Linked DNA regions of Homo sapiens. The protein of the gene in region 4 interacts with the protein of the main gene of each other region in a pairwise test. Each region holds a gene or a part of one and is shown on either strand. Other genes may lie near its edges.

What was found.
Region 1: the proteins of KPNA5 (region 4) and ANP32B interact in binary tests that used the Homo sapiens proteins (3 or more experiments, as listed by UniProt).
Region 2: the proteins of KPNA5 (region 4) and RAD52 interact in binary tests that used the Homo sapiens proteins (3 or more experiments, as listed by UniProt).
Region 3: the proteins of KPNA5 (region 4) and NRF1 interact in binary tests that used the Homo sapiens proteins (3 or more experiments, as listed by UniProt).

The regions. Positions count from the first base shown.
Region 1 is NC_000009.12:98,000,208-98,007,872, forward strand, and holds part of ANP32B (acidic leucine-rich nuclear phosphoprotein 32 family member B), read left to right. Parts: intron 1-4,756; coding exon 4,757-4,946; intron 4,947-7,665. UniProt on the Homo sapiens protein: Multifunctional protein that is involved in the regulation of many processes including cell proliferation, apoptosis, cell cycle progression or transcription.
Region 2 is NC_000012.12:932,462-940,126, reverse strand, and holds part of RAD52 (DNA repair protein RAD52 homolog), read left to right. Parts: intron 1-2,675; exon of another isoform or gene 2,676-3,041; intron 3,042-3,244; exon of another isoform or gene 3,245-3,320; intron 3,321-4,258; exon of another isoform or gene 4,259-7,050; 5' UTR 7,051-7,068; coding exon 7,069-7,152; exon of another isoform or gene 7,153-7,286; intron 7,287-7,321; exon of another isoform or gene 7,322-7,665. UniProt on the Homo sapiens protein: Involved in double-stranded break repair. Plays a central role in genetic recombination and DNA repair by promoting the annealing of complementary single-stranded DNA and by stimulation of the RAD51 recombinase.
Region 3 is NC_000007.14:129,614,564-129,622,228, forward strand, and holds part of NRF1 (nuclear respiratory factor 1), read left to right. Parts: intron 1-7,665. UniProt on the Homo sapiens protein: Transcription factor that activates the expression of the EIF2S1 (EIF2-alpha) gene. Links the transcriptional modulation of key metabolic genes to cellular growth and development.
Region 4 is NC_000006.12:116,719,076-116,726,740, forward strand, and holds part of KPNA5 (importin subunit alpha-6), read left to right. Parts: intron 1-3,050; coding exon 3,051-3,214; coding exon of another isoform or gene 3,215-3,218; exon of another isoform or gene 3,219-4,249; intron 4,250-5,221; coding exon 5,222-5,300; intron 5,301-6,675; coding exon 6,676-6,801; intron 6,802-7,419; coding exon 7,420-7,547; intron 7,548-7,665. UniProt on the Homo sapiens protein: Functions in nuclear protein import as an adapter protein for nuclear receptor KPNB1. Binds specifically and directly to substrates containing either a simple or bipartite NLS motif.

The DNA.
Region 1 (7,665 bases), on a different chromosome or scaffold from region 4:
CCCTCAAGTGATCCTTCCATCTCGACCTCCCAAAGTGTTTGGGACTACAGGCCTGAGCCACCATGTCCGGCTGAGTCTCTTTATTTTTACATTTCTTTAAGTTGTCCATATTTAAGAGCTTATTTCTCATAAATGTGATGCCTCACCAGTGCTCCATGCATTTTGCCCTTTTTCCTATTACAGGTATACCCAGATACTCGGGCTCTTACTAGTTTTATTCGTTTCCTTCAAACCAACCCCCATTTCCAGTATTTAAGCCGACATTTACTGACTTTTGCTGCATCCAAGGACATGAACATTTGCCCATTGTATCCTTAAGTAACCCAGAGAAGAGAGAATGACTGTCCTCTTTTTAGAGATGAGGAAGCTGAGTTTAGAGAATGTAGATAATTGCTCAGGAGAAATGGCAGAGTAGGGATTCAAATCTAAGTCTAGGCTGGGCACGGTGGTTCACGCCTGTAATCCCAGCACTTTGGGAGGCCGAGGCGGGCAGATCACTTGAGGTCAGGAGTTTGAGACCAGCCTGGCCAACGTGAAACCCCATCTCTACTAAAAATACAAAAAAGTACCCAGGCGTGGTGGCAGGCGCCTATAATTCCAGCTACTTGGGAGGCTGAGGCAGGAGAATCACTTGAACCCAGGAGGCGAAGGTTGCAGTGAGCTGAGATCATGCCTCTGCACTCCAGCCTGGGTGACAGAACAAGACTCCATCTCAAAAAAAAAAAAAAAAAAATTCGAAGTCTGCTGTGTTTTCCATAGCCCTTGGGACCTCTTCTTCTCTTTCCACCTGTAAATTTATTTCATGCCCAAATTTCCTTAAGCTGGGAATTCCAACAGGAGCACCAAATTTTAACTGCTGATGCTTTCCCGTTCACATGGGCTACACTAAGCCTTTGTTTATTGGTTAGTGACAGACATACTAATCCTAGGTTGTGAGCATAAGAAACCCTTCTCCCCGCCACCCCCCTTTTTTTTTCTGGTTTAATTTTTTTTTTTTTTTTTTAGACGGAGTCTCGCTCTGTCACCCAGGCTGGAGTGCAGTGGCGCCATCTCGGCTCATTGCAAGCTCCGCCTTCTGGGTTCACGCCATTCTCCTGCCTCAGCCTCCCAAGTAGCTGGGACTACAGGCACCTGCCACCATGCCTGGCTAAGTTTTTTGTATTTTTAGTAGAGATGGGGTTTCACTGTGTTTGCCAGGATGGTCTCGATCTCCTGAGCTCGTGATCCGCCTGCCTCAGCCTCCCAAAGCGCTGGGATTACAGGCGTGAGCCACCATGCCTGGCCTTCTCTTTTAATTTTTAAAGAACAGAGTAGCAGGCAGTACCTTTTCACTGTTGGCCAGTTGATGACTGGCCATTACCTAGTTCTCGTGGCAGCCTGAATCCTCTGATTATCAGAAGCCTTTTTCAGTGTTGTAGCACACAGCAATGGAGCAGAAGCAAATACTGTGTGGGAGTTGTTTGCTTGAGTTTTTTCCTGATCTGGTCAGTAATGTATGAGAGGACCCTCTGGTGGCTGTGAAAGTCTCAGTCCCCCAGGATAGTGAAGGATAAAAAGTAATCTTCGTTGTGTTCACCATTTTTAGAGGATCTGCTATACCCATACATTTACTGGGTGCTTTATGCATGTTTTATTAGTAATTGTAAAAAAAAAAACCTTCGATACAAAGTGGATAGAAATAGCATGGCCCTTGTTTTATATTGAGGAAGCTAAGGCTTGGGTGAGGCTGAATCCCTTGTCCAGAGTCACACACCCTGTGGCAGAGCCACAGGGCTACACACCAGAGCTATTTCGAAAAGCCTGGGGTCCCGCCATTCTGCTATACTTGGCACTCAGATTCCTGGCGGTGCTAGGTTGGTCTCCTGAAGTTCTAACTTGGAATTAAGTAAATCTGTAGGAGAAGGTGAAGGGGGGAAGAGTTGGGTCCATTTTGACTTCTGGCAGTATTCTTCAGTGGGGAAAAACACCATCCTCATCCTCATTAACCACATACATTTTGAACACCGTCTACTTTGAGCCCAGTTCTTATAGTCAATGCAATGATTGTGAATGCCTCTGCTTGCTACAGGGACATTAATCGAGAGACAAAGAAGGCATCAATTCAAACTTCCTTGGACACCTTTTTTAAGAGACCTGGGCCATCCAAACCATCCCCCAAAGCCCTTCTAAATTCTAAGAAGGCAAGCAAAATTATTGTTAATAAAATGTTTAATGTTTATTATGGCTAGCCTATTAGCTTACATCAAATTTCTGGTATGGTAGAGTTGTAATTTTTTTTAATCAGTATTTACACATTACATTGGGATCCTGAATAATCTGTGTGTAGTGTATTTTGTGCCTATTGGGCCTTAAAGCACAATTTTACTACTTTCAGCAGTTCCAGAGTACTACAGTTATTTGGGATTTTTGTTGTTTTCTTGCTTTCATTTCATTTTTCAAACTACTGATTGGCATGTCCAAATTGTTTGAGAAGGGGTGCTTTGCCAGGAAGTAGCCAAAAATCTCACATAATTGTACAGTTTCAGAAACAGGAGAGCCTTGGAGGCCCTGTGTACTGGAAGAGTCAATGAAACTAGATAGAGAAAGGGCTTTTGGTATTAAAAAGCATTAGATAAATATCAGAGGTTGTATGTGTTTTTGTGCACCTATTTCTAGGAAATAATTCTGAAATATAAATGGCTCATTCCTTTAAGTGGAGAATTTTTAGAGTGAACCTTTTTGGAAAAGCTGCCTAAAGCTGACTCTAGCTGGCATCGAGTCAGCCTTTGTGAAGAGAAAGCCAGTATGCTAGCTAGCCATCTGGGGTGGCATTGCAGCATTTTTTTCCTCTTTGGCAAGAAGTCATACCTGGGCTTCTGGAAGTCAGGGCCTGACTGGAAGGGAAGCTAATCTGAAAATTACATGATACAAAAGCAGCTCTATGACCAGAAGGGCTGGGGACAGCTTTCTTAAAACGTCAAGGAACTGACTATATAAGCACATTGTTTGATCCACAGACTCTTGGATCATTGTACAATTTGTGTTTTGAGGGGTGCAACGTTTTCCTGTTGCTGTAACCCTGCTGTGTGTTCCCTGCATGAATAAAACAAGTGTGGGAGCCTCTTTCTTCATCAAGAAGATGAAGTTCTTCATGTGCAGGGGTCAGTAGCCCTTTTCTCTAAGGGCCAAATAGTAGGTTCATTTGGCTTTGTAGCCTGTTTATATAGTCTCTGTCACAACTAGTCTGCTTGGCCATTTTAGTACATAAGGAGCCATACATAAATAAATGAGTGTGACTGTGTTCCAATGGAGCTTATTTTACAAAAACAAGTGGTGGGCCAGAATTGGCCACTGGACCACCGGTTCCCAACCCCTGCTCTAGAGCCTTGAGGCAGATTTTCACACCATTTTATATCTCCTCAGAACTACATAGATACCTTGAGTTCTGAAAATAAGGTTTTGTTTTGTCTGCATTTCTTCTCAGGTCCTTGTGAGTGTTGTAACAGCTTTCCTAATAAAGCAGCAAAACCTGTTAAGCATCAACATTTATTTTTTTAGAAATTATTTTATGTGGAGGTCCTCTTAAAGTTTGTTTGGGTGTTTTTAGTACTATCTTCTTAGAGAATACCGAAGTTTTTCTCTTGATTCAGAACCATTAAAGGTTGTGTTTATGAAGCTATCCAGATATATGTAGTTATTGCCCCTATTCTGAAAGGCACCAGGCTATGTGCTACTTCACATTGGATTTGCCTTTCATAGGCTGCTCCCTCTTCTATCTACAAGGGTCTGCTGTCACTTCCTGTTGCTGTCTCCTGACTTGCCTATAGTGTAGTACCTCTGCCCTCTCAATCTCTTAATTTACCCTTAATCAAAACTTAATAGACCTGGGATTGAAATACTAGTACACTGATATAATAACAAATGAAGATCTGAGTAAATACATAGACATTTTCCAGTGCACTTTGACTACTCAGAAAACTTGACTTGGGCCAACTTTTTATAGCTTAACTGTTTTTAGATAGATGAAACTGATGGTTCCAAAGAAATGAGGTATTGCAACAAAATTTCAAGGTATGGTAAATAAAATCAGAAGAACTTTACATCATAAAAGTCTGGTAACATGTCAGTCTTTTCCCCAAATACTAAAAAAGAAGAGTGCAATGTTTCTCCGTATTTCCGAAGTTTCAACTCTGCGCCCCTCTGCTTTTTCCTCAGCCCATATTGACTCCTGTCTTCCCTGAAAGTAGCTGCATTGCCACACTTTATATTTTATTATATTTCATCCTCTAGTGTTTCATGTCTGTGCCCTAACTAAAATTGTAAGCACCCTAAGATTGTGTTATAAATCTCTGAATTTTTCCCTATACTGCCACCCTAGAACATTAAAGACCGCTTGATACCCAGGAAGTTCTTAATGGCCATTTGATTACTCAAATGTTAACATTTGTTTCAGCTAAATTTATTAAACTGTTTGATTGTCTCATACTGTGAAAATACCTGGATTTAATAAAAATTATTTTCAATTTATATTTCTTTAGACTACTATGCTGCCAGAAAAACACATAGTTCTCTGGGAGAGTAGATAAAGGAAGAGAGGGACTAAAGTCTAGTAACCTAATATAAAGGTTGCAAAAGACTTGATGTATTTTTCTATATATGAGGCTGAGTGGGTAGTGGAAATTGAATATAGAGCCTAGAATTTTACCTCTTCAAGAGATGGATTTGTTACTTATATTCCTTTGGTTTAGGAGTTGTGGTTTTTGATCCTTTTCTTCAGAAAAAGTTAGAATGTCTGAAAAGCCTGGACCTCTTTAACTGTGAGGTTACCAACCTGAATGACTACCGAGAGAGTGTCTTCAAGCTCCTGCCCCAGCTTACCTACTTGGATGGCTATGACCGAGAGGACCAGGAAGCACCTGACTCAGATGCCGAGGTGGATGGTGTGGATGAAGAGGAGGAGGACGAAGGTGAGTAGGCTCAGCATCTGGTGAACCTGATGTCTGCCTTTCAAAGCCTCTGATAAAAGCTATTGGATGTTGGCCGGGCGCAGTGGCACACAACCGTAATCCCAGCACTTTGGGTGGCCGAGGCAGGGGGCATTGCTTGAGCCCAGGAGTTTGAGACTAGCCTGGGCAACATGGCAATACCTTGTTTCTACAGAAAATAGAAAAAAAAAAAATTAGCCAGGTGTGGTGGCGCACACCTGGAGTCTTAGCTACTCAGAAGACTGGAGGCCGAGGTGGGAGGATCACTTGAACCTAGGAGTTTGAGGCTACAGTGAGCCATGATTGTTCCCCACTGCACTCCGTCTCAGAAGACAGACAGGGTGTCTCAAAAAAAAAAGCTACTAGATGTTCTTACTATTGAGGAAAATAGTGTGTGTTTGTGTGCGTGCGCACGCGTGTATTTTTTGAATGTAGGCATTCCATTAAATTTATAGCTAAGGCCTATTTCATAAGCACCTGGCCTCAAGGGATCCTCCCACCTCAGCCTCCCCAAGTGGTGGGATTACAGGGATGAGACACTGAACCTGGCCCGGGAAGCATTTCCTGAAGTCTACAAGCTAAGTTAGGATGCTGTGCGTTTAAACTGTAAACCGCTTGCTCTTACAGGCTTGCCACTCTGCTGTTCTTAAGTCTTCCTACTTCAGGGGTCTTCAACCCACAGGCCACAGACTGGTACTACTCCATGACCTGTTAGAAACCAGGCCGCATGAGCAGTGAGGAAGCCTCATCTGTATTTACAGCCACTCCCCATTGCTCACATTACTGTCTGGGCTCCACCTCCTGTCAGATCAATGGTGGTATTAGATTCTCATAGGAACGAGAATCCTATTGTGAACTGCACATGTGAGGGGGCTAGGTTGTGTGCTCCTTAGAAGAATCTAATGCCTGATGATCCGAGGTGGAGCTGAGGTGGTGATGCTAGAGCTGAGGTGGTGATGCTAGCACTGGGGAGTGGCTGCAAATACAGATTAACATTAGCAAAGAGGTTTGACTTTACAGAGATGATAATAAATCAATTGCTTGCAGACTCATCAACCCCTATCTGTGAGTGGCAAGTGACAAGCTGCATCTGGTGGCAGGCTTTATAGTGGCAAGTGAGTTGGTGTACTTCAGTTGTACAGCTGTATCTGGTGACAGGCTTTAAGTCAGAATCTGATGCTTTTTTTAGTCAGTGCATGGCCTGCCCATTTTTTTATTTACCACTTCCATCCACACCTCTTTCCCGCACTGCGTATTTGTCTCAGTCACAGTTTTGTTAGGCCCACAAGCTAACTATCCAACATGAGTAAAAAACGTCGCTGGAGAGCTTCTTTGAGAAGGGGGAAAGACCCAATAATGAGACAGCAGAAGACAAGACTGCCAATGAAAAGAAAGCTTCATTGAAAAGAAAATACCAAGAGTGCTACTTAAATTACAGGTTCATTGCAACAGATGATTCACATTCTCCAAGCCCACTTTGTATAATATGTGGCAACAAGCTATCCAACAAAGCCATGAAACCTTCAAAACCACTTCACTGGCTGGGCACAGTGGCTCATGCCTGTAATCCCAGCACTTACAGAGGCCGAGGTAGATCACCTGAGGTCAGGAGTTCAAGACCAGCCTGGCCAACATGGGGAAACCCTGGCTCTGCAAAAATACAAAAATTAACCAGGCATGGTGGTGCACACCTTTAGTCCCAGCTTCTCGGGAGGCTGAGGCATGAGAATTGCTTGAACCTGGGAGGCGGAGGTTGCAGTGAGCCGAGATTGTGCCGCTGTGCTTTAGCCTGGGCGATAGAGCAAGACTCCATCTCAAAAAACAAACAAACAAAAAAAAAACTGCTTCACCACTTGGAGACCAAGCACCCTGCGTTTAAAAGACAAGCCTTTGGAGTTTTTCAAAAGAAATAAACATGAACGTGAAAAACAGAGGCAATTATTGAAAGCTCCCACTTCATCAAATGTGACTGCACTGAGAACATCTCATTCTTAGTGGCTAACTGCATTGCTAAAGCTAAGAAGCCCTTAACTAACTGCATTGCTAAAGTAAGAAGCCCTTTACTATTGAAGAGTTGATCCTGCCTGCTGCTAAGGACATTTGTCATGAACTTTTAGGAGAGGCTGCAGTTAAGCTGCAGTTCAAAAGGTGGCACATGTTCCTCTTTGAGCTAGCACCATAACTAGATGAATTGATGACATAGTAGAGGATATTGAGGCATAGTTGTTAGAGAGGATTGATGAGTCACCGTGGTACACATTGCAGGTTGACAAGTCTGCCGATGTTGACAACATGGCAACAATGCTTGTTTTTGTGCAATATATTTTCAGGAGGATGTGCATGAGACTATGTTATGTGTACTTCGTTGCCAACCAGCACCACAGCTGCAGAACTATTCAAGTCTTTTGAACGATTACATATCAGGAAAACTGAATTGGTCATTTTGTGTCGTATATGCACAGATGGAGCGGCTGCCATGGCTGGACGGCTTTCTGGTTTCACTACTCGAGTCAGAGAGGTCGCTTCTGGATGTGAGTCTATGCACTGTGTCATCCATAGAGAAATGCTGGCTAGCTGACAAATGTCACCTGAACTTAACGTTTTGCAGGATGTGATTAAAATTAACCACATTAAAGTACATGCCCTTAACCCATGTCTGTTCACGCAGTTCTGTGAGATGGATGCAGAGAATACTTCTCTT
Region 2 (7,665 bases), on a different chromosome or scaffold from region 4:
TTAGTTCCATCTTAGGCTCTCCATTGTCCTCTTCTCTCTTCTTTTTTTTTTTGAGACAGAGTCTCATTCTGTCACCCAGGCTGGAGTGCAGTGGTGTGATCTCTGCTCACTGCAACCTCTGCCTCCCAGGTTCAAGTGATTCTCCTGCCTCAGCCTCCCGAATAGCTGGGATTACAGGCGCACACAACCACGCCCACCTAATTTTTGTATTTTCAGTAGAGACGGGGTTTCACCATCTTGGCCAGGCTGGTCTCAAACTCCTGACCTCGTGATCCGCCTGCCTCAGCTTCCCAGAGTGCTGGGATTACAGGCATGAGCCACCGCGCCCGGTGCGCCCAGCCCTCTTCTCTCTTCTTTGCATCTCTCTTCCTATCTGGATCCCTCTTTGCTGTCCTTAAAGAGCTGAGATGAGAGATTGAGAAACATCTCTACAAGAAATTGACGTTTTTCTACTTATGGGTAATTAGAAGCTTGTAGTATTTTCAGTCTTCTAAGTATGTTGAAGATATGAGACGTTGGTGATTTTCTTTGTTTCTCCGGTTGGTTGGTCTGTGTAGTTTTTGGACATGTGTTTGGATATTTGGATTTATATAGCTGCCATAATCTTGGCTATGCAGGTAGTCTTTCCTGACACTTCATCCTGAAAGATTTGAAGCCTTTGGACAAATTTTACAGTGGGCTGGGTGCAGTGGCTCACGTCTGTAATCCCAGTGCTTTGGGAGGCTGGGCAGGAAGATTGCTTGAGCCCAGGAGTTTGAGACCAGCCTGGACAACATAGTGAGACCCGTGTCTCTACAAAAAATAAAAAATATGCCGTGTGTGGCGTTATACAACTGTAGTCCCAGCTACTTAGGAGGCTGAGGTGGGAAGATCACGAGCCAAGGAGTTTGAGGGTACGGTGAGCCATGATCGCCTCACTGCACTGGGTGGCACAGCGAGACTGTCTCAAAAAAAAAATTTACAATTAATGTCTGCATATCCTTCACCTAGGTTCATAAATTTGTACTTTTGCTTTATCTACTTGCCTTTTTCTCTCTCTCTACACACACACACACACACACACACACACACACAATTAGTTGAATGAATTGAGAGTAAGTTGCAGAAAACATGACACTTTACTCCAATATTGCATCATACAAAATCATACATCTAGTGATAGGCCATTGTCCTACAGAATCACGATATAATTATCACACTAACCAGCTGTGGTGGTGCACACCTGTAGTCTAAGCTACTCGGGAGGCTGAGGCAGAAGGATCACCTGAGCCCAGGAGGTTGTGGCTGCAGTCTCATATTCATCCCATCATCAGATTTCTCCCATTGTCCTAATAATATTCTTTATAGCTTTTCTTTATCCCTGATCCGAAATTTCATTGAAGATCACACAGTGCATTTAGTTGTCATGCCTCTTAAGTCTTTATTTATTTATTATTTATTTTTTGAGATGGAGTCTTGCTCTGTTACCCAAACTGGAGTGCAGTGGCATGATCTTGGCTCATGCAACCTCCACCCGCTGGGTTCAAGTGATTATCCTGCTTCAGCCTCCCGTGTTGCTGGGACTACAGGTGTGTGCCACCATGCCCAGCTACTTTTTATATTTTTAGTAGAGACGGGAATTGTACCATGTTGGCCAGGCTGGTCTTGAACTCCTGAGCTCAGATGATCCACCCGCCTTGGCCTCCCAAAGTGCTGGGATTACAGGCGTGGGCCACCACACCCAGCCTTAAGCCTCTTTTAACATAAAAGAGTTCACCAGCCATTCTATTTTGTTTTGCTTTTTGAGACACTGATGCTTTGGAGAGTCCAGGCCAGTTGCTTTGTAGATTTCAACTTGTTTGATTGTTTCCTGATGATTAGGTTGGTAGAAATACTACCTCAATGATGGGACCTTCTTAGTGCGTCCATCAGGAAGCACATGATGTGACTGTAATTGGTGACATTAAGTTTGATTCCTTAATAATTAAGGTGGTAACTCCCAGGTTTCTACATTGTAAAGGCATCTTTTGCCGCCCTCCTTTTTATTCCCAAGTAGTTTATTTGGAGATTAGTCCTTTACACAGTAGAGGAGCGGGGAAGGGAGACAGGAAAGGAAAGTTTGACAACAAAGGGTGAGTTTTCAAGCCTGTTGCCACGGGGGAACCTAATTCCACTGGAGAAGCTCATGGCTTGGTGATGTTCCACAGAGGGGTCAGAAATTTAGCGTATTTCAACACCAGCTCCTGTCAGGCACCATTTGAGGGCTGCTGCCAGGGTGGTTCAATTTTCTGGTGCTTACAGCTTGCCATAAACAGGTGCAAAGTAGTCTGGATACCAAAGAAAGCTCTCAGGTAACAAGATGCAGATGTTGGCATTTGGAAGTCAGAATAGGGTGCACTATTGTGGTAAGAGCTGAAGGGATGGCTGGGCGCGGTGGCTCACACCTGTAGTCCCAGCACTTTGGGAGGATGAGGCAGGCGGATCACCTGAGGTCAGAAGTTCGAGAGCAGCCTGGCCAACATGACGAAACCCCGTCTCTACTAAAAATACAAAAATTAGCCAGGCGTGGTGGTGGATGCCTGTAATCCCAGCTATTCAGTAGGCTGAGGCAGGAGAATTGCTTGAATCTGGGAGGTGTAGGTTGCAGTGAGCTGAGATCACACCACTCTGCACTCCAGCCTGGGTGACAGAGCGAGACTCTGTCTCAGAAAAAAAAAAAAGCTGAAGGGATGCTGAGTAGAGCATCCGTAGTGTCTGCTATACCTGGGTACCCTAGAACCTGGAGAACCTACAGCTTGAGGCAAGAGCGTATGTGCTATTATTTTTTCAAGAAGTGTGCTCTCAGGAAGCAGAGGTAGGGGAAAGGTGAGTGAAGGGAGAAGGAAGATTAAGTCAGTTCAAGGGTGCATTTTGAAGTTGGTTGCCCTTGGTGCAAGTACAGTTGGTTGCTTGTTCTCCTAAAGCTGTCTCCCAGGAGGATGTATACATAACTGCATTCCAGGGCAATCCATCTAAAGGAAGGGTGGACGGACCCCTCAGCTTCTGTATCTCACTGGAAAAAGGTTTGCTTCATGGCACATTAATTCCCATAGACTTCTAGGTTGTGCATGTGTGGGTACCAGGTGGGTCCCACAGACCCTTACACCTCCAAGGCAAGCAGCAAGCCACGGGTGGGAAGTGATAGGTACCCAGTATGAGCAGGAGGTAAGGGACCGTGGGGTTGTGCCTGTGGGCAGTTGGTTATAACCCAGACGTGTTTGATCAGCCCAGTGACAGCTGGAGTGGACAAAGTGACCAAGGGCCTCAAGGACACACAAGGCCAAGAAGATTTGAAGTGCTGTGTAAGATATGCCTAATGCATTTGGATTCTACCTTTGTTTAACGAATATGCACACATAAAAAACACTTGAACTCCTTGAGCCCAGGAGTTCAAGACCAACCTGGGCAACATAGTGAGACACTCATCTCTAAAAAAATTTTAAAAAAAATTAACCTGGCATGATAGCACTCACCTGTAGTCCTGTCTACTCTGGAGGCCGCAGTGGGAGGATCACCTGAGCCCTGGAGGTCAAGGTTACAGTATGCTATGATTGCACCACTGCATTCCAGCCTGGGTAACAGAGCAAGACGCTGTCTCTTAAATTTTTTTTTTTTTTTTTTTTACTTTTATAATGGAAAAACCATTGTAGACAGTTTTAGGAAGGAAAGCAGAATAGTAAGACATCTTTTTCAAAGTAAAAGAGCAAAAAAGGCAAAAAATATTTCACATTTACTTTATGGACAAAGATAAGATTGTCCTTCAATAAAAGACTGAATTTTTTTTGTTTGTTTTGTTTTGTTTTTTGAGAAAGAGTCTTGCTCCATTGCCCAGGCTGGAATGCAGTGGTGTGGTCTCGGCTCACTGCAACCTCCGCCTCCCGGGTACAAGCAATTCTCCAGCCTCAGCCCCCCGAGTAGCTGGGACTACAGGCACGCGCCACTGCATCTGGCTAAGTTTTGTATTTTTAGTAGAGATGGGGTTTCACCATGTTGACCAGGCTCGTCTTGAACTCCTGACCTCAGGTTATCCACCTGCCTGGGCCTCCCAAAGTGCTGGGATTACAAGTGTGAGCCACCGTGCCCGGCCACAAGTTGCTCTTTAAATGTGAGAAGTGTTCTGGCATGGTGGCTCACACCTGAGGCGGGTGGATCACTTGAGGTCAGGAGTTCGAGATCAGGCTGGCCAACATGGTGAAACCCCGTCTCTAGTTATTTATTTATTTATTTATTTATTTATTTATTTATTTATTTTTTTGAGACGGAGTTTCACTCTTGTTTCCCAGGCGGGAGTGCAATGGCGCAATCTCGGCTCACTGCAACCTCCGCCTTCCGGGTTCAAGCGATTCTCTTGCCTCAGCCTCCTGAGTAGCTGGGATTACAGGCATGCACCACCACACCCGGCTAATTTTGTATTTTTAGTAGAGACGGGGTTTTTCCATGTTGGTCAGGCTGGTCTCGAATTCCTGACCTCAGGTGATCTGCCCTCCTCAGCCTCCCGAAGTGTTGGGATTACAGGCGTGAGCCACCACGCCCGGCCCTGTCTCTACTAAAAATGCAAAATTTAGCCGGGCATGGTGGCGCACACCTGTAATCTCAGCTACTCAGGAGACTGAAGCAGCAGATTCGCTTGAACCCAGGAGGTGAAGGTTGCAGTGAGCTGAGACCACACCACTGCAGGGCAGCCTAGGCGACAAGAGCGAAACGCTTACAAAAAAAAAAAAAAAAAAAGATTCACAGGTGATGGTGATGCTGCTGGTTAAGGAAGTGAAGTGGCTTTTTGCTCTGTAGCCTTCCTGAATGTTGGGGCCTCCTGCTCTTCATTTGTTTCATTTCTATTAAGTCTCCTCCCTCCAGCTATCTTGTTAGCTCCTGGAAAGCATTTCAGTGATTGTGGCTTCTATTTCTTTTTGACCCCACAGTGTCCAGGGTCATGCTGCCTATATAGTAGTGAGCAGTAAGTTGAGGTTTTTAAAAACTTTATTATTATTATTTTTGAGATGGAGTCTTGTTCTGTCACCCAGGCTGGAGTGCAGTGGCACAATCTCAGTTCACTGCAACCTCTGCCTCCCAAGTTCAAGTGATTCTCCTGCCTCAGCCTCCCGAGTAGCTGGGACTACAGGCGCCTGCCACCACATCCGGCTAATTTTTTTGTATTTTTAGTACAGATGGGGTTTCACTATGTTGGTCAGGCTGATCTCGAACTCCTGACCTCAGGTGATCCGCCTGCTTTGGCCTCCCAAAGTGTTAGGGTTACAGGTGTGAGCCACCACACCTGGCCGGTTTTTTTAAACTTTAAAACAGATTCACTTGATTTTTCTTCCCTACCCCCCAGCTTTTTTGAGGTATGACTGACAAAAATTGTATATATTTAGGGTGTACAATGTGATGATTTGATATGTGAATGCACTGTGAAATGATTACCACAGTCAAGGTAATTCACATATCCACCACCTCCCAGTTACCCTCTTAGCTAGTACAGGTTGGGTATTGCTTCTCTGAAATGCTTTGGGACCAGAAGTGTTTTGGACTTCAGATTTTGGAATATTTGAATATATATAATCAGATATCTTGGGAAGGGGACCCAAGTCTAAACATGAAATTCATTTGTTTTCAGAGCCTAAAGATGATTTTTTTTTTTTTTTTTTTTTGAGATGGAGTCTCACTCTCGCCCAGGCTGGAGTGCCGTGGCACAATCTCAGCTCACTGCAACCTCTGCCTCCCAGGTTCAAGCGATTCTCCTACCTCAGCCTCCCAAGTAGCTGGAATTACAGGCTCGCACTACCACACCCGGCTAATTTTTGTATTTTTATAAAGACATTTCACCATGTTGGCCAGGCTGGTCTCAAACTCCTGACCTCAGGTGATCCGCCCGCCTCAGCCTCCCAAAGTGCTGGGATTATAGGTGTCAGTGACTGCGTCTGGCTGATAATTGAATTTTTCTCTTGGAGAAGCTGAATAAACTGTGTGTTGTGTGCCTGCCTTTTTTTTTGTTTTTTTTTTTTTTTGAGACAGAGTCAGACACTCTGTCACCCAGGCTGGAGTGCGATGGGGTGGTCATAGCTCACTGCAGCCTCAAACTCCTGAGCTCAAGCGATCCTCCCACATCAGCCTCCTAAGTAGCATAGCACCACGCCTGGCTAATTTTTAAATTTTTTGTAGTGATGGGGTTTTGTTGTCTAGGCTAGTCTCAAACTCCTGGGCTCAAGCAGTCCTTCTGCCTTGGCCTCCCAAGGTGGTAGGATTATAGGTTTGAGCCACCATGCCTGGCCATTACCTGTGTTTTGACTATAACACATCATGTTGGCACTCAAAACGTTTTGGATTTTGGAGCATTTTGAATTTTGGATTTTTGGATTAGCAATGTTCCACCTATAGTACATTTTTTGTTTGCTTTCCCATAAAGAATTTTTTGTAATTTTGATTTTATAGTTCTAAATGTAATATATTCTTATTGTAAAAATCACCTTTAATAGCACCGCCAGAATAGCAAACATGTTAACAGAAAGGTAGAAGTAGACCTTAAAGAATCTTCAGCAGCTTGAGAGACCACAGCTAACCACTGAGGAACTCTGTTCTGGATTGGAGCAGTGCTTAGAAGCTTATAAATAACTCTTAGGGTATTGCATAGGGATTCTTTTTTTTTTTTTTTCCTGAAATGGAGTCTCGCTCTGTCGCCCAGGCTGGAGTGCAGGGTGTGATCTCAGATCACTGCAACCTCCGCCTCCTGGGTTCAAGCAATTCTTTGCCTCAGCCTCCCGAGTAGCTGGGATTACAGGCGCCTGCCACCATGCCCAGCTAATTTTTTTGGATTTTTAGTAGAGAGGGGGTTTCACCATGTTAGCCAGGATGGTCTCCATCTCCTGACCTTGTGATCCACCCACCTCGGCCTCCCAAAGTGCTGGGATTACAGGCATGAGCCACTGTGCCTGGCCGCATAAGGATTCTTTATGTGATTTTTCAGTAGAGGCTCTTGCCTTTTACTTTAAACATTCTTTGAGGGTTGTTTTTTTTTTCCGCTTTTTATTTATATAGAGGTCAACCAGAATCAAGATGTCTGGGACTGAGGAAGCAATTCTTGGAGGACGTGACAGCCATCCTGCTGCTGGCGGCGGCTCAGTGTTATGCTTTGGACAGGTAACTGTGGTTCCTTCATGCCGGGAAAGAATGAGGTGAAGTGAGTAAAGTTAGGGCAAGGCAGTTTGTAGAGCATCGTAGTACATGTGTGAGCAGTACCTAGTACGTTTACCTAGTACGTGTGTGAGCAGTACCTAGTACGTTTACCTAGTACGTGTGTGAGCAGTACCTAGTACGTTGACGCGGTGCGTGCGGGGGCAGTACCTAGTACGTTTACATAGTACATGTGTGAGCTATTTGTTATTGGTTTTTCCTTTAGATGCATTTTTTGGGAGTCTTGTGAACTCTGGAGGGCATTTTGGAATGTTAGCTATCAAAAGACTGATAGTACTGGGGATTAGATTTAGATTTTAAATTTTTTGTGGGGGGGGATAGATAACATATTTGTATGACATCAAATTCAAAATGAAACTGTGAAAATCTCCCTATTTCCTATTGCCCCTGTGTGCATGCCACCCAGTTCTATTTCTTTTTTTTTTCGAGACTGAGTCTTGCTTTGTCACCCAGGCTGCA
Region 3 (7,665 bases), on a different chromosome or scaffold from region 4:
ACCTCAGCCTCCCCAGTAGCTGAGACTATAGGCAAGTGCCACCGTGCTGGCAGTGGCTTCATAACATGTTTCAAGGAAATTTAGCTCCTGTGTTAAGAGAAGGAGCTATAGAAGTAGAAGATAATGAGGGCCCTTGTCCAGATATAGAAGGTTTAAAGGAGAAAGGATTTCAGGTTTCCTTCTGAATTCCTGTGTATGTCGTTAGGACCCCAAATTGTAGGTTTTTTGTTTTATTAAACGATAATTATGCACTTGTCTAATTTTGTTAGGGAACCGAAGGCCAACTTCCCATGATTTAAATACCTGAATTTGCATTGCCTGCACACTGTAGGTTCAACCAAATCTCTGGGTTGTCTTTAGAAGCATTTTATGTAAATAATCACGAATGAGTGACTTGTTTTAAGGGAAATTTAAGCTCCTGTGGTCTGGGATTAAATTTTTATGCCTTTTCTTGTATGGAATAAGGCATTCAGTAAAGTTGAAGAATAATAACAATGAACAGTAATTACTGAAATTAAAATTTTTCCCTGAGTATTTGAAAAGGCATGCTGATTTTTTGGTTTCTGGAGGAACTATGAACTGTCAGTCTTTAGAAACAGTCTACAGTCCTACCTCAACAGGAAGTTAATGTATACATTCAGCTTCTGTCAGATGTCTTTAGACAAGCCTGTTGCTTCATGCTGAAGCAGGCTTATTCATTCACACAGTGCCACTGTGAAAAATTGAAGGGTGAGGGGAAACTCCCTGGGCTGTTGAATTTCACAAATGTCTACTTTAACCTCAAGAGTTTAGATGCGCCCTTTCTGGGCCAGTAATCATCTAGGAAATGGGATATCTGAATTTAGATGTTTGTGTGTGACTGTGTGATGCTTATTAATATGTATATATAGAGTATTTGGAAAATCAATCTTAAAATGCAAATCTTTGATTTTGTAAAAAACATTTCAGGAAATGTTCTATACTAAAATACATTTTCTTTATGTTCTTTCATGTTTTCCTTGATAGCTAAAGCTAGTGTTTTCAGCCTGAGCTTACCCAAATATAATTTTCCATGAATGCTTAGTAAAACAGCAATGAAAAAGGAATCCACTTGTTATTTTAGAAACATTTTATTTAGACCAAGTCCAATGTTTTTTGAGTCTCAAGATACATGTTAATTTTTGTGCCTTGTGTATCATATTTCCTTCCTTATTAACTAGAGGGTGGATTACCCACTTTCTTGGGTTTTCAGTTAGTACTTTTATCCATCAGTTTTCTACTAAGGTAAACAGACTGGAAGATAAATAGTAAAAGGAGGTGAAACAAATGAATTTCAGGTGTTTCCAGGAGATTAAAACCATATTGAGCTATTGGAAACTTTTAATCCTCAAGCAACAACAATGCTTTGTTTGAAGTTATTTTAGTGCAATATGGACAAAACTTGGGAAAGGAATTTTTGACTGCTCAAGAAAAATAAGTGGATTGCTTATACCTTAGAATATATATATATACACACACACATATATATATTTTTTATTTTTTCAAAAGTGCACTTCAGAATTGGGCTAATGTATTTTCAGCCCAACTTAATGCAGTGTAGTTAGCAAAACATCCAAAAGGCTTCATCATGTTGTGGTCTTTAGGCCTAAAATGTTTTAAAATGTGAACATTTATGTGATACCAAGTAAACTTTCTATGACCCAAAGAAGGGCTAGAAATAAAACTTTACAGAGATGTTCTAGTATATTAGAAAACAATGGCTGGTTATGGTGGTTCATGCCTATAATCCCAGCACTTTGGGAGGCCAAGGCAGGAAGATTGCTTGAGGCTAGGAATTCTAGACCAGCCTGGGCAATGTAGTGACATCCTGTCTTTACAGAATATTTAAAAAAACAAAAAAACGAAAAACTAGCTGGGTATGGTGGCATATGCCTATAGTTTGAGCTATTCAGGAGGCTGAGGCAGGAGGATCACTTGAACTTAGGAGTTTGAGGTTGCAGTGAGCATAATCATGCCATTGTGTTCCTGCCTGGGCGACAGTGCGACCGTGTTTCTTAAAAAAAACTAGTTGCTGTTAAGGTAGGCCTACCACATTTGTAATCTCTTGAGGCAAATCTGTGTTGTTTCTCTAAGAGCAGTCACTTAGAAGATAATCTGACAGTAAGGAATGGTCTACTGAATCCCAGATCTGGTAGTCTGCCTTGCCCAATCACAACATAGTTTGTGTAAAACTCCAACTGCTACTGAACCATCAGATAATTTCTTGAGGAAGCCGTTTCTCTTAAGGAGAAGTGTGTGTGTGTTGGAGGGAGTGTTGGTGGGGAGAAGAGGGGTAAAGAGAAGATGATACTAGTAAAATAATCTAGTTTTGTAGGTTGGGATGATCACTGGAATTTTTTAGGGGAAATATTCTCAAAAAAAGTTGTAAGAGCTACTTTTGTATGGGTTATCAGTTTGGTGATTTAGACTATAGTAATTGCATTGTTTAATATGCATTGTATTTCGATTAATTCATGCATGCTGATTTCTGTGGTAACAAATGTGAAAAGTTTGGCTGATGGCTTAAGTGGACATTTTCTTAAGAACTCTTTAAGTGGTGCCTGTTGGGATAAACTATGCCAAGCCATTTTCTGAATCTTCATGAAGAATGAGCTTTGTATGCATATATATTAAGACAGTTTTTTTTAAAAAGAGCATGTATTTTACTGTTGGTAATTGTAAAGTTTTTGCTTTTTAGAACTTTAAGAGTCCGTTTTGTTGCTGCTACTGAATGCTAATGTGGTTAGGCTGGCAGCTAAACCTACAAAGAACAAGGGGAAATGAGGAAATGTCCCAATGAAACATTGCTTAAAACTGTTTGCGCAGTGGACTAGAAATGGGGAGTTGGGGACTAGGGGACCTGATTCTTGTTTTATGTTCAAAGGAGAGTGAAGCATTCTCTCCATTAAGAAATAACCTCCTTAAGTGTATTCTCACTTTGGAGTTTTGCCACTCATTCATTCACCTGACGATGATTAAAGATATACCACATTCTGGGCATGTACTAGGTGCTAGAGTAACAAATCTTGGGCCTTGTCGTGTAGAGCAGAAAGGTATGGGCTCAACTAGCTATGTTACAACTTCTAGAGAACCAAAATAGAGCAAACAAAGAGTGGTGTGGGATTATAGGAGGAGGGAGAAATTCCTTCTAGGGAGAGGAGAATGATACACAGAGAAAAGTGAGGTTAGGGAAGACTTTTCACATAGGGGAAGTTTGAGTAGGACTTGGAAGGGGGAGTAGCTGCATTACTGATGGAGAAGAGGGGCTGAGAGGAAGGGCATCAGTAGTCTGATTTGAGAACTAGCAAGTGGATTTTGCTCGACTTGGAGAATAGTGGAAAGTGAAACTGATAAGGTTGTGGCCATATTGGGAAGAGTTTGTAATTCCATGCTCATGAGTGTGAACTTTATTCTATAGGCATTTAGGGACCATAAGAGGTTTGAGTAGGACATCCACTATGGTTTTTAAAAAGATGACATGTAAAGATTTGACTAGAGACTTGTGAGAGTATTGAATTGTGATGTAAAAGGACATCGATTCTGGGGATAATTTTTACTTCACAGTTGTCAGATTTGAGTGACAATTGAGTAAAGAGTTAAAGATTATAGTGTGGTTATTGGGTGATGATGATGCCTTTAAGATAGGGAATGTATAGGAAGAACAGAATTTGAGGAGGAAGGTAATAGAGTATGACTCCAGATGTGTTAAGATATCTGGGAATCAAGAAAGGTCAAGTAAGTACCTGGGTATTTGGGCTGGAGCTCAAGGGGACATTGGGATAAATTAGGGGATTTGCATTCATCAGTATAATGCCATATAGAAACTGCAGAAAGCCAGGCATGGTGCCTCACACCTGTAATCCTAACACTTTAGGAGGCCAAGGCAGAGGATCACTTAAGGCCAGGAGTTCAAAACCAGTCTGGGCAACGTTGTGAGACCCTGTTTCTACAAAAATTTAAAAAATTTGTCAGGTATAGTGGTAGCCACCTGTGGTCTCAGCTACTCGGGAGGCTGAGGCTGGAGTATGACTTGAGCCCAGGAGTTTGAGGCTGTAGCAAGCTATGATAGGGCCACTGCACTCCAGCTTGGGTGTCAGTGTAAGACCCTGTCTATAAAAAAGAAAGAGAAAATAGTACAGATTGAGTATCCTTTATCCAAAATGCTTAGGACCAGAAATGTTTTGGAGTTTTTTTTGACTTTGTAATGTTGGTATGCATATAATGAGATACCCTGGAGATAGGGCCCAAGTCTAAACTTGAAATTCATTTGTGTTTCATATACATCTTACAACCTGGATGCAGTTTTATACAATATTTTAAATAATTTTGTGCAGGAAACAAAGTTTTGATTCCATTCTGACTGCAACATGTCACCTGAGGTCAGGTGTGGAATTTTCCACTTGTGGCATCATGTCAACACTCAGAAAGTTTCAGATTTTGGAGCATTTCAGATTTTAAACTTTTGGATTAGGAATGCTTAACCATATCAGGAGTGAAGAAAAAAAACTAAGGGCAACCTTGAAGAGCATCTACATCTGAGGGTCAAGTAGAAGAATAGAAACCTATGAAGTAAGTTGAGAAAGAATGGCTAAACAGATAAGGTTATAGGGTTGAAGAAGCTGAAGAGAGGGATTAAGTGAATACTGACAGGGAAGTTAGCCGTGTGAAATACCACAGAGTTCATTGGTTTGGAGGGCAATGCCGGAGGATCGCTTGAACCCAGCACTTCAAGACCAGCCTGAGCAACATAGCAAGACCTCGTATCTATTAAAAAAAAAAAAATCATTGGGATAAAAACTGGACTTGGCATACGTGTATATATATATATATATATATATATATATATATATATACACACACACACACATATATATACACGTGTGTGTGTGTGTGTGTGTGTGTGTGTGTGTATATATATATATATATATATATGTATTGTTTTGCTGGGAACCATGATAGTTTAGACAGAATAGATTTCTAGAGCATTACTAAATTCAGGGGTAGGTCCTACAGAATCTAACTTAGTAGAAGACCCATGCTTAGAAATAGGTCCTGTTCTTCCATGTCTCTCTGCAATGGGAGTTGCAGCTTAAATGCTTTGGGAGATGACCCCCAATGACAAGGCTGCCTAAAAATCTCCATATTGTTTGGGTTGTTTTTTTTTTTTTTTGCCTCTTTTACATTGTCTTAAATTCTGAGAATTGGAGATTTCATTTGAGTTGACAGTGTCTTAAAATACAAATAACCTCTTGCAGAGTTTTGAGGTTTTATGATATTAATATGTTAAGTATGGGGGTTTTTAACCTGGGGTTTTCTGGTTCTGGGGTTTATATATTTTGGCTGTGTGACCCTGAATCCCTTAAAATTGTTTGAAAAGTTATGTGTGAGTGCATGTGTGATTTTTCTGGGGAGAGGGTCCACAACATTTATGAGATTTTTCAAGGGGGCTGTTGACACACAGAAAAGTCAAGGGCCTTTACTAAATGTTAATGATTAAATCAAGTGTTGGTTGTGTTCGTTGGCTGAAATCAGTTATCTCAACAAGTGAGACAGATCAAGGGAAAGAAATCTTGAGTAGGTGTCTCAGGTGAAGAACTTTGGAAAGATACGAGGAACTTCTTAGAAATGGGAGTAGGAGCACCAGAAGGAAGGTAGGAGGAATGCCAAAGCAAAGCTTAACCGATTTCAGAATTTTGTCAAGTCTCTGGATTGCTTGGTTTTTTTATACTCTAGGACTGACACTTAGTATATGTTTATTCATGCACTGTAGATACAGTAGGCTTTATGGGGTAGGGGAATCAAATCACTTTTTTTTTTTTTTTTTTGAGATAGAGTCTCGCTTTGTCACCCAGACTGGAGTGCAGTGGTATGATCTTGGCTGACTGCAACCTCCGCCTCCCGGGTTCAAGCGATTCTTCTGCCTCAGCCTCCCAAGCAGCTGGGATTACAGGCGCCTGCCACCATGCCCAGCTAATTTTTTATTTTTAGTAGAGATGGGATTTCACCATATTGGACAGGCTGGTCTTGAATTCCTGACCTTGTGATCCGCCCGCCTTGGCCTCCCAAAGTGCTGGGATTACAGGCATGAGCCACCGCACTGGGCCCAAATTACTATTGTTTTAAAGGGAAAGTGTTTTGAAAGAAAACAAATTGATAGATTGTGCTTGTTGGAAAAAAATTTTTCTACCAAGCTGGCTCATCTGTCAGAAAAAATTCATTTTTAAGTTAGGTGTTGCTTATGCTTTGGAAAAAATTTTAAATGCACAAATATTTCAGTCTAGTGATATGGGGCAAGACATTTATTTTCTCCTTGCAAATTTTTTCTGACCATGAAATGAAAATACCGTTGATGGTTTTTGTAGTGTCTTTCTGAAATATGACGATTATGGAATACTTTGAGATCCAGGATGATTTAATGCTAAGAAATTGCTGGCATTCACATTTCTAAAGTCGTGAATAAAATTAAGAAATTCAAGCACATTATGTGTTCACTAGATCTTACTTGATTTCCAAAATATTTCTTTTTGAAATTTTAGATAATTGGTAATTTTTACTTCCTTCTGCTAATCTTTGCATCTTTGAAATTAGATTAGGAGGCAGTTTTGTCAGCTAGGCCCTAGTTTCTGGGGCAGTGATATCCATACTTTTGCTTGCCACCCTCAAAATAAATTAATGCCACTTGGGATTAATTTGTGATTTTTCTGGGGAGAGGGTCTACAACTTTTATTTATTTTACCAGTAGTCTTGGTAAATACAAGAATGATATGAATAAATATGTTGGGTAATCTTAAACTTGTGTTATGTGATTTGTAATTAGCTTGTGTTTGTGGATGATCTTTACATTCAGTAAATCTCCAAAGAGGGCCCAGATAGAATGGAGTATTTTGTCTTTTCCTTTGGGAACTTTTTTTGGTTCTTTCTTTCATTAAACAATTATGAAATAAAATTTTTGGTAACAGATCTTCCATGTAAAAATAGCCCACAAATCAAAGAACTAGCCAAGATTTGCTAAGTAAGAACACATCATGGAATACCATCATAGAACTAGTCTCTTACCCCAAAACTAGCTGTAGGTGCTAAGTCTAAAGAAGAAGTAATTCTGATATGTTACCAGAATTATGTGGTAATGCGACTGAGTGTTAAAATTGTTGTCTTCTTTAATTTTTGGCTCTATTATTTTAAAAGTTTTTCTCCATAGAATTTTTTTTTTTTTTTTTTTGAGATACTATCTCGCTCTGTCGCCCGGGCTGGAGTGCAGTGGCATGATCTTGGCTCACTGTAACTTCCGCCTCTCGGGTTCAAGCGATTATCCTGCCTCAGCCTCCTGAGTAGCTGGGATTACAGGCACCCGCCACCATGCCGGGCTAATTTTTGTGTTTTTAGTAGAGACAGGGTTTCACCATGTTGGTCAGGCTGGTCTAGAACTCACGACCTTGTAATCTGCCCGCCTCGGCCTCCCAAAGTGCTGGGATTACAGGTGTGAGCCACCGTGACCGGCCGAAATGTATTTATAGTGAAAAATTTAGAAGAAAAGCACCCCCCATTAGTGGTTGTCTTTGGTCTATAAGCTTATTAGGTGATTTTCATGTTCTTTCTTATACCTTCCATTGTTTTTCAAGTTATCCTTAATGAAAATGCATTAGCGTT
Region 4 (7,665 bases):
ACCAAGCCGGAAATTTTCATTTCTACAATCCTATTTTATCTTTTCAATAAGTAGTTGTCTTGCTCTCTGGTTGCTCATCTTTATGTAGAATTCTGTTCTTTTATGGACCCAGCAAATTGTCATATCTAAGGATTTATAGTGTTATTTGTTTGTTTGTTTTTTGGCATCTTTGTTTCTTTGTGCTTTTTTTGTTTTGTTTGTGGTTTGTCTTAATCACTTTAATGTTGGAGGCTGTCTTCATTTATCTGGTGATTTTTGAACAAATTTCGGAAGAAACTAAAAACTGATTGGAAATGAGTGTATAAATGGACTTCATTGTAGGATAATTGGGCAGCAAAACCATATTTTCTTAGAGGAACACTAAATTTCAGTCTCTTTTGTGAGACCATTCAGTTTTTTTAGAGACAGATTTTGCATTCTTTTGCTGGAAGATGGGTAGATTGGGTTGAGGTATAGAGTAGGTAACATACCTGGCTACTACATATCCTGCAGCTGGGCACTGTGTCTCATGCTGTAATCCTAGCACTTTGGGAGGCTGAGGTGAGAGGATGGTTTGAGCCCAGGGGTTCGAGGCCAGCCTGGGCAACATTGTAAGAGCCTGTCTCTACAAAAAAATTTAAAAAATTAGCTGACTGTGGTAGCACATGCCTGTACTCCCAGCTACTCAGGAGGCTGAGATGGGGAGGATTGCTTGATCCTGGGAGGTTGAGACAGCAGTGAGCTGTGATCATGCCACTGCACCTTGAGCTTGGGCAACAGAGCAAGACCCTGTCTCAAAAATAAAAAATACAAATAATAAACATCTGGGAACTGAGTATTGGGAAAGAGCTAGAGGTTTTCACTAGTCAGTATGCAGACTTACACTTATCTCCTACTTTCTAGTCTAGTGCTTCATTTCAACCTCCACTGTGCTTTATATCCCAAAGTTCTGTTTCTGTGATTCACATTTTGTTGTCCAGTTTCTCCTTCAAATAAACTTCCAGTCTTTGGTAGCATTGAGAATGCTAGTCACCTACCTTTGTAGTAGGGACCCAAAGTCTATCCTGCTTCTTATCAGATTTTTAACCTCTTCCTCTACTTTAGCACCGTTTCCCCTGCTGTCTGTGATACCTGGTTCCTCTGATTTCTAAGCATTTGGAGTTGATGGTGGGGAGATAAATTAGCTTTCCTCTTATTGGTAGTTCCCTCTCCTGGCATTAAGCTTCCACTTTTCTCCCCTCTTCTAAGTCGGTTACTGTTTCTTTATTCACTTTTGTCTTTATATATTGTGGGCAGGATTATTAATGTCTACTGGCCTTTTCAAAGTTGGAATTTGTATTTCTGTTTCTTTTTTTTTTTCCTGAGAAGATACTGGGGCAGAAATGTTTTTACTTTGCTCACTTAATACTGGAAATAGGTATTAGTTCATTGTTTTTTAACTCAGCGAAAAGGTATATGTCAGCTATATTAATTTTTTTAAACATACTTTATATTTGCTTCAAAAACCCGATATTTGGCTGGGTGTGGCGGCTCATGCCTGTTATTCCAGCATTTTGGGAGGTTGAGGTGGGTGGATTGTTTTGAGCACAGGAGTTCTAGACCAGCCTAGGCAACATGGTGAAACCCTGTCTGTACAAAAATTAGCTGGGCATGGTGGCTCACACCTATGATCCCAGCTACTCAGGAGGCTGAGGCTGGAGGATTGCTTGAGCCCAGGAAGCAGAGGTTGCACTCCAGCCTGGGCAACAGAGTGAGACCCTGTCTCAAAAACAAAACAAAACAAAAAACGAAAAACAAACCCTGATTTCTCTGTTCAAGGAAGAGGTGGTTGGCAAGGGTGGAAGCTTGATTGCTGGAGAAGGATCCAGTTGTGCTGATTTTATTTGCCCACTAACAGATAGACATACCTATTATGTAAGCTAACTGATTTGTGTACATGAGTCCTAGGGTCATCTTTAGATGGTAACTACTTCCAGAAAATGTGGTATATATTCTGATAATCTTGAAAATCATCTTTAGAGGACAGGCCCAGCAGAGATGGTAACTGCTTTCAGAAGAGGATAGTTTATATGCTGATAATCTTGAAAATCATCTTTAGAGGACAGGCCCAGCAGAGATGGTAACTGCTTTCAGAAGAGGATCGTTTATATACTGATATTCTTTAAAATAGGGGTAAAGAGAAAAGTCATCTAAAATATTAGAACATTTAAGAAAAATGTCATCACTTTTTATTTGTGAGATACATAACATATAACATAGTTCTTTTTTTTTGTTTTTTAGTAGAGATCGGGTTTCTCCATGTTGGTCAGGCTGGTCTCGAACTCCTGACCTCAAGTTATCTACCCGCCTCGGCCTCCCAAAGTGCTGAGATTACAGGCATGAGCCACCGTGCCCAGCTTAACATACTTCTTAACTGAGGAGAAAGACTAAGGGATATGTTAGGTTGCTTATTTTAAAAAAACAGCTTTAAGGAACATAGCATCAATAGTGATCATGGGAATTTAAAAAAAGCCAACATTTGAGTGCCTACTCTATGTCAGGCACTGTTCTTAGGTGCTACATGCCTTCTTATCAGTGTAATAGTTTATTAATGACTTCCACTTGAGTACCCTTCACAAATATATTTATTTTTGTACTTTCTGTACCTTAGTTCCTCAAATGATTATTAGATTTATTTCCAGTTAAGTACATGTAATGAGTACAGTGAGGCTCATTAAAGTTAGATTATATTCTGTGATCATCATATCAAACACTTAACTGGAACATTTGAACTTCTCAGTTTTGGTATGCTTTTTTTGTGGGGGTGTGTGTGATTTAGACACAGACAAGAGATCTCAAATATTTTACTATTTTTTAAAACAAATTTAACTACATATCTTATTCAATATAACATAATAGTAGTCATAATCAGCTTCATATTCATACATCTGATTATAATTTTAAAACAATATAAATTTTCTGGTATTTTTATAACATTAAATTTTTGTTTTAAAATGAATTTCTATATTTTTCTAAGGAAACTTGGTTTTAAATAGAGAAAAAATTTAAATATGCTCTTTCTTCCCTTACAGGTTTCACCTTGCTTAAATGTCCTGTCACGACTGTTGTTTAGCAGTGACCCAGATGTGTTAGCAGACGTGTGTTGGGCCCTTTCTTATCTCTCCGATGGACCCAATGATAAAATTCAAGCAGTCATTGATTCTGGAGTCTGTCGAAGATTGGTGGAACTTTTGATGTAACTATAAATAATTTATGCTTAATAATTGTATGATTGAGATTAAAATTAGCAATTCAAGTAATAGCTTTGTAAATATCTCAAGAGTCACTGTCTTCAGGGAAAATTAAAAAGCTACTGACCCAACACTTAACAGAATAGCCATAATCCTAGAAAGTTGACCCTAAAATTTGGAACTTATGTCCTATAGTTGGAACTAATTATTTTGTAAATGAATTTCCTTAGTTTAATGTGATCTCTTTATGAATTAGATAAACTTAATAAGTATTTATGGAATGCCTGTTATCTGCTAAGGTGTTGTGTGAGACATTAATGAAGTATAGAACACAGTTTCTCCTCTCACAGAACAAATAATCTAGTTTATTATTCATTATAATAATTAATTTGAGTAAAAGTCCATGTAGTGAAAATCATTTAGTATTTCACCTCTATTAAAGATAACATGTTTCTCTTTGCTGGGCTGTTATAGCTATTTTCCTTAAAAAGAACAGCTTTTCTATACAAAGAAGTTAAAAACGTTGAAGAAAACTTGTTTTAAAAAGATGTTGTAACTTCATAACTTCATCTACTTACCCTCTTTAAAAAATGTATTATCTTCCTTCCTTTCTTCTTTTGTCGAGAAGCCATTGTAGGCCCAAACAAGGTAGATGGCACAAAGATAGGTCTGATAAGGAGTTGGGGGTCCCAGCATGAGGATAGCATCAGTGGAGGGTGGGCATGCAGGTTCAGCATGGGGGATCAGGGCCCCAACTTGATAATGACACCCACTGGGGTGAGCAGATAAGCAGGCTGGAGCAGGACTTGGAGCCAGCACATCATGGGGTACCAGTCTGGCTGAGGTAAAAGATTGGCTGATATAGGGAGGTTAGGAAAATAGAAGCTATTTCCTGTTATCGGAGAATAGAGATAAAAATATAGAAGAGGAGAAAGCCTGAATAATTTAATTATTTTAGATTAGAACTAGAAATATCAGTGTGAACTCATGGCTCTTAACATAGCTAGGTATGGAAATAAATATATACATGTGTGTAGGTATGTGTGTGTGCATCCTCTTGAAGGGCATGGGAACAGTAACACTTCTACATTAATAAGCTGAGGAAACTGAAGTTCAAATCGAAGTTTCTAAACACTACTCTCCATTGAAAGGAACCAAGATTGTTGGAGAAATGACTGGTTTCAGGACTGGGACTGAGAAAAATGTAAGATGAATGCAGGAAGTAATGAGTGCTCAAGTAATGGACAGATGTCAAAAGAACACAGAAGCCTATTTGAAGGGGTTCTCACTATCCAAACCTGGGACAGTTTGTGCTTTGAAATAAATTGCATTAATGTATATTTTATTGAATAAAATATGAAACCCATAAGTCCACACTAAAGCATGTAGTTAGAATGATAGTATTAGAAATACATCACTGGTAATAATACTAATAATTACCAATACTTCAGATAATAAGCATCAAGAGATGCTAAAATCTAGTGGTAAAGTAGGTTAAGGAGTGGGATTTTGCATTATCTCAAAGTATTTTGTTGCAAAATATTAATTATATTAATTATAAATGGGAAAACAATAATGGTAAAATGGAAAAGTCTGGCAGACATCATCATAATTAGTGACCAGAATTCAGTACCAATATAATGGGAAAAAACAGATTGGGATATAATGAAAAGGTTATAGCACTTACGATATCCCCCAGCCAAAGTATATAACCTGGGTCTTAATCATGAAAAACATTGGATAAACCCAAATAATGGGCTTATGATCTTCAAAAATGGCAAAATCATGAAAATTAAGGGAAGACTGAGAAATCATTCTGGAGAGACATGAAAACTGGCTGTAATGAACGATCCTGGATTAGATCCTTTGTTATAAAGATTATCAGAATAATTAGTAAAACTTCAATGGGATCTTTGGCTGAACACCCCGCAGGAGTTTGTAGTATTTTTGTAACTTCTGTGTAAATTTTAAATTCTTACTAGTATTTAGGTTCATGTTTTTATTATTTTTAGGCACAATGATTATAAAGTTGTATCACCTGCATTAAGGGCAGTTGGTAATATTGTGACTGGTGATGATATTCAAACACAGGTGAGTTCAAACTTGAGTATCATAAATTGTTAACATAAAGGACTTTAAAAAATTTATGTTTCATACAACTTGATTACATATTAATCAAGATTTTAGCATCACCATAATTGTGTGTGTGTCTGTATCTGTGTCTTGGAGGATGGTGAGATGTCAAAGAAGATGTGCTGTCAAGATTGACTCCAGCCAGATTTGGGTTACAATCTTTTTATTTATTTAGTAAGTTAGTTTAGTTAGAGACAGGATATTGCTCTTTCTCCTAGGCTGGGGTGCAGTGGTGTGATCATGGCTCACTGCAGCCTTTACCTCCCTGGCTTAAGCAGTCCTCCTGGCTCAAGCAGTCCTCCCGCCTCAGCCTTCCAAGTAGTTGGGACTGCAGGTGTGCACCACCACACCTGGCTAATTTATTTATTTATTTATTTTTTAGGGACAGGGTCTTGCTATGTTGCCCAAGTTGGTCTCAAATTCCTGAGCTCAAGTGATCCTCCTGCTTTGGCCTCTCAAAGCGTTAGACTTACAGGCATGAGCCAGTATGTCCAGCACAATCTTTCTTGAAGATAGAAACTTAAATTATTTAACACGTTAGATTCTCCTTTGTTTACCGCCTTACAGTGTATTTTTTATTCTAACCTACATATTTTCTTTCAGTTTTATCCTTTTAAAGGCCTATTTGGATACTAATCATAGTTATTAAATAGTTGCTCTTTAGTAATTGACAGTTATTCATTTAATATAGCTCTTGAAATGAAAATGCCATTCTAGACATATACTGTAATTTTCAGTTGGATTTCCAGTGCACTGCTCCACACTTCTTCACCAGATGAATTTAATGTAAATCATTGGAGTATTTTGAATATAGGAACATAATTAATCTTGCAATGGAATAAAGAATGTAAAGGGACAATGCAGAATATACTTGTTTACAGAAGAAGAGTAAGATAGTAAAAATTTTTATGAAGCCAATTGATTCTACATGCTGTTTTTAATGGTTGTAGAATTGGATTTTCTCAGACTGTATGATATATGTATTTTTTTCACCAATTCATTTGGCAAAACTAGAGGTTGGATCCTGACCTCGGTCACCAAATCTTTTTTCAGTTTTATCAGTTGAACTCTGAGAACATTTGTAAATATGAAGGATACACCTCTGATTTTCATTTTATTGGGTTGAGAACAGGGCAGTTCCTTATAGTGGCAGGAGACTAGGTTTATCAATAGCAGACGTGTAGAAGACAGCAAGTTTTACTTTGGGAGGAATTTCTCCTTTCTTAATTTCACTTTCTAGAATGGGTTTTGTACATCTAAATAATTCATTAGTAGATTTTCATATAGGTTATTTACTATAAAACTTTTTGTTTCCATTTCTAACTTGTTTTAGGTAATTTTGAATTGTTCTGCATTACCCTGTCTCTTACATTTATTGAGTAGCCCAAAGGAGTCAATTAGAAAAGAAGCCTGCTGGACTGTTTCTAACATCACTGCTGGAAATAGAGCTCAGATTCAGGTAACTACCCTTCAGATCTGAGAGTAGAACAGCAAGGTCTAAGAAGCCAGTTTGGACAAAAGTTAACACTTTTACTAAAAAAGATTCCTTTTTAAAAAGATACCGAAAAAGTATTTTAAAGAACATGGGCTTTCCTCCTCTAAAATAATAACATTTACTTGTAGTATTCTAGTGAAGAACATCAAGTGTGTGTGTGTGTGTGTGTGTCTAGCACAGTGCCTGACACATAATGGTTTGTCTTTAGAAAGATATTTTTTTGCATTAGTTTTAAATAAGTTATGCAATAATCTTCCTCTCAAAGCTTTTAATGATTTATTAGGGTTCTATCAAGCTTCTTGTGTCAGTGATTACTTATCCATTTTGATCAGTCACATGGCTTGTGCTTTATCATCTCTAAAATTTATATTTTGCTATTCTCCAGTCTTTAAAAAGCTAATTTCCTATGTAAAAAGAAAAATATTTGAAAAGTTTGCTGACAGAATAGAAATTAAAAATTTATTTTAATGTCAAGGTTCCAAAAACCTTGACATTTTGAAGCCATTGAGTTTCAAGATTTTTTTTACTGGTAATATTTTAGAAACAGTATTTGTACTGATTATATATTTTTCCCCCTCTCAGGCTGTTATAGATGCAAATATTTTTCCTGTTTTGATTGAGATTCTTCAGAAAGCAGAGTTTCGTACCAGAAAAGAAGCAGCTTGGGCTATAACTAATGCAACATCAGGAGGTACTCCAGAGCAAATAAGGTATGATATAAACTTCTTAATTGTTTTTTACATGTAAATGAGACAAAAGTTGAAATAAAACATATTTTAATTTACTGATGGAACTAAAATATTATTTCTAAGTCAGTTTGATAATATG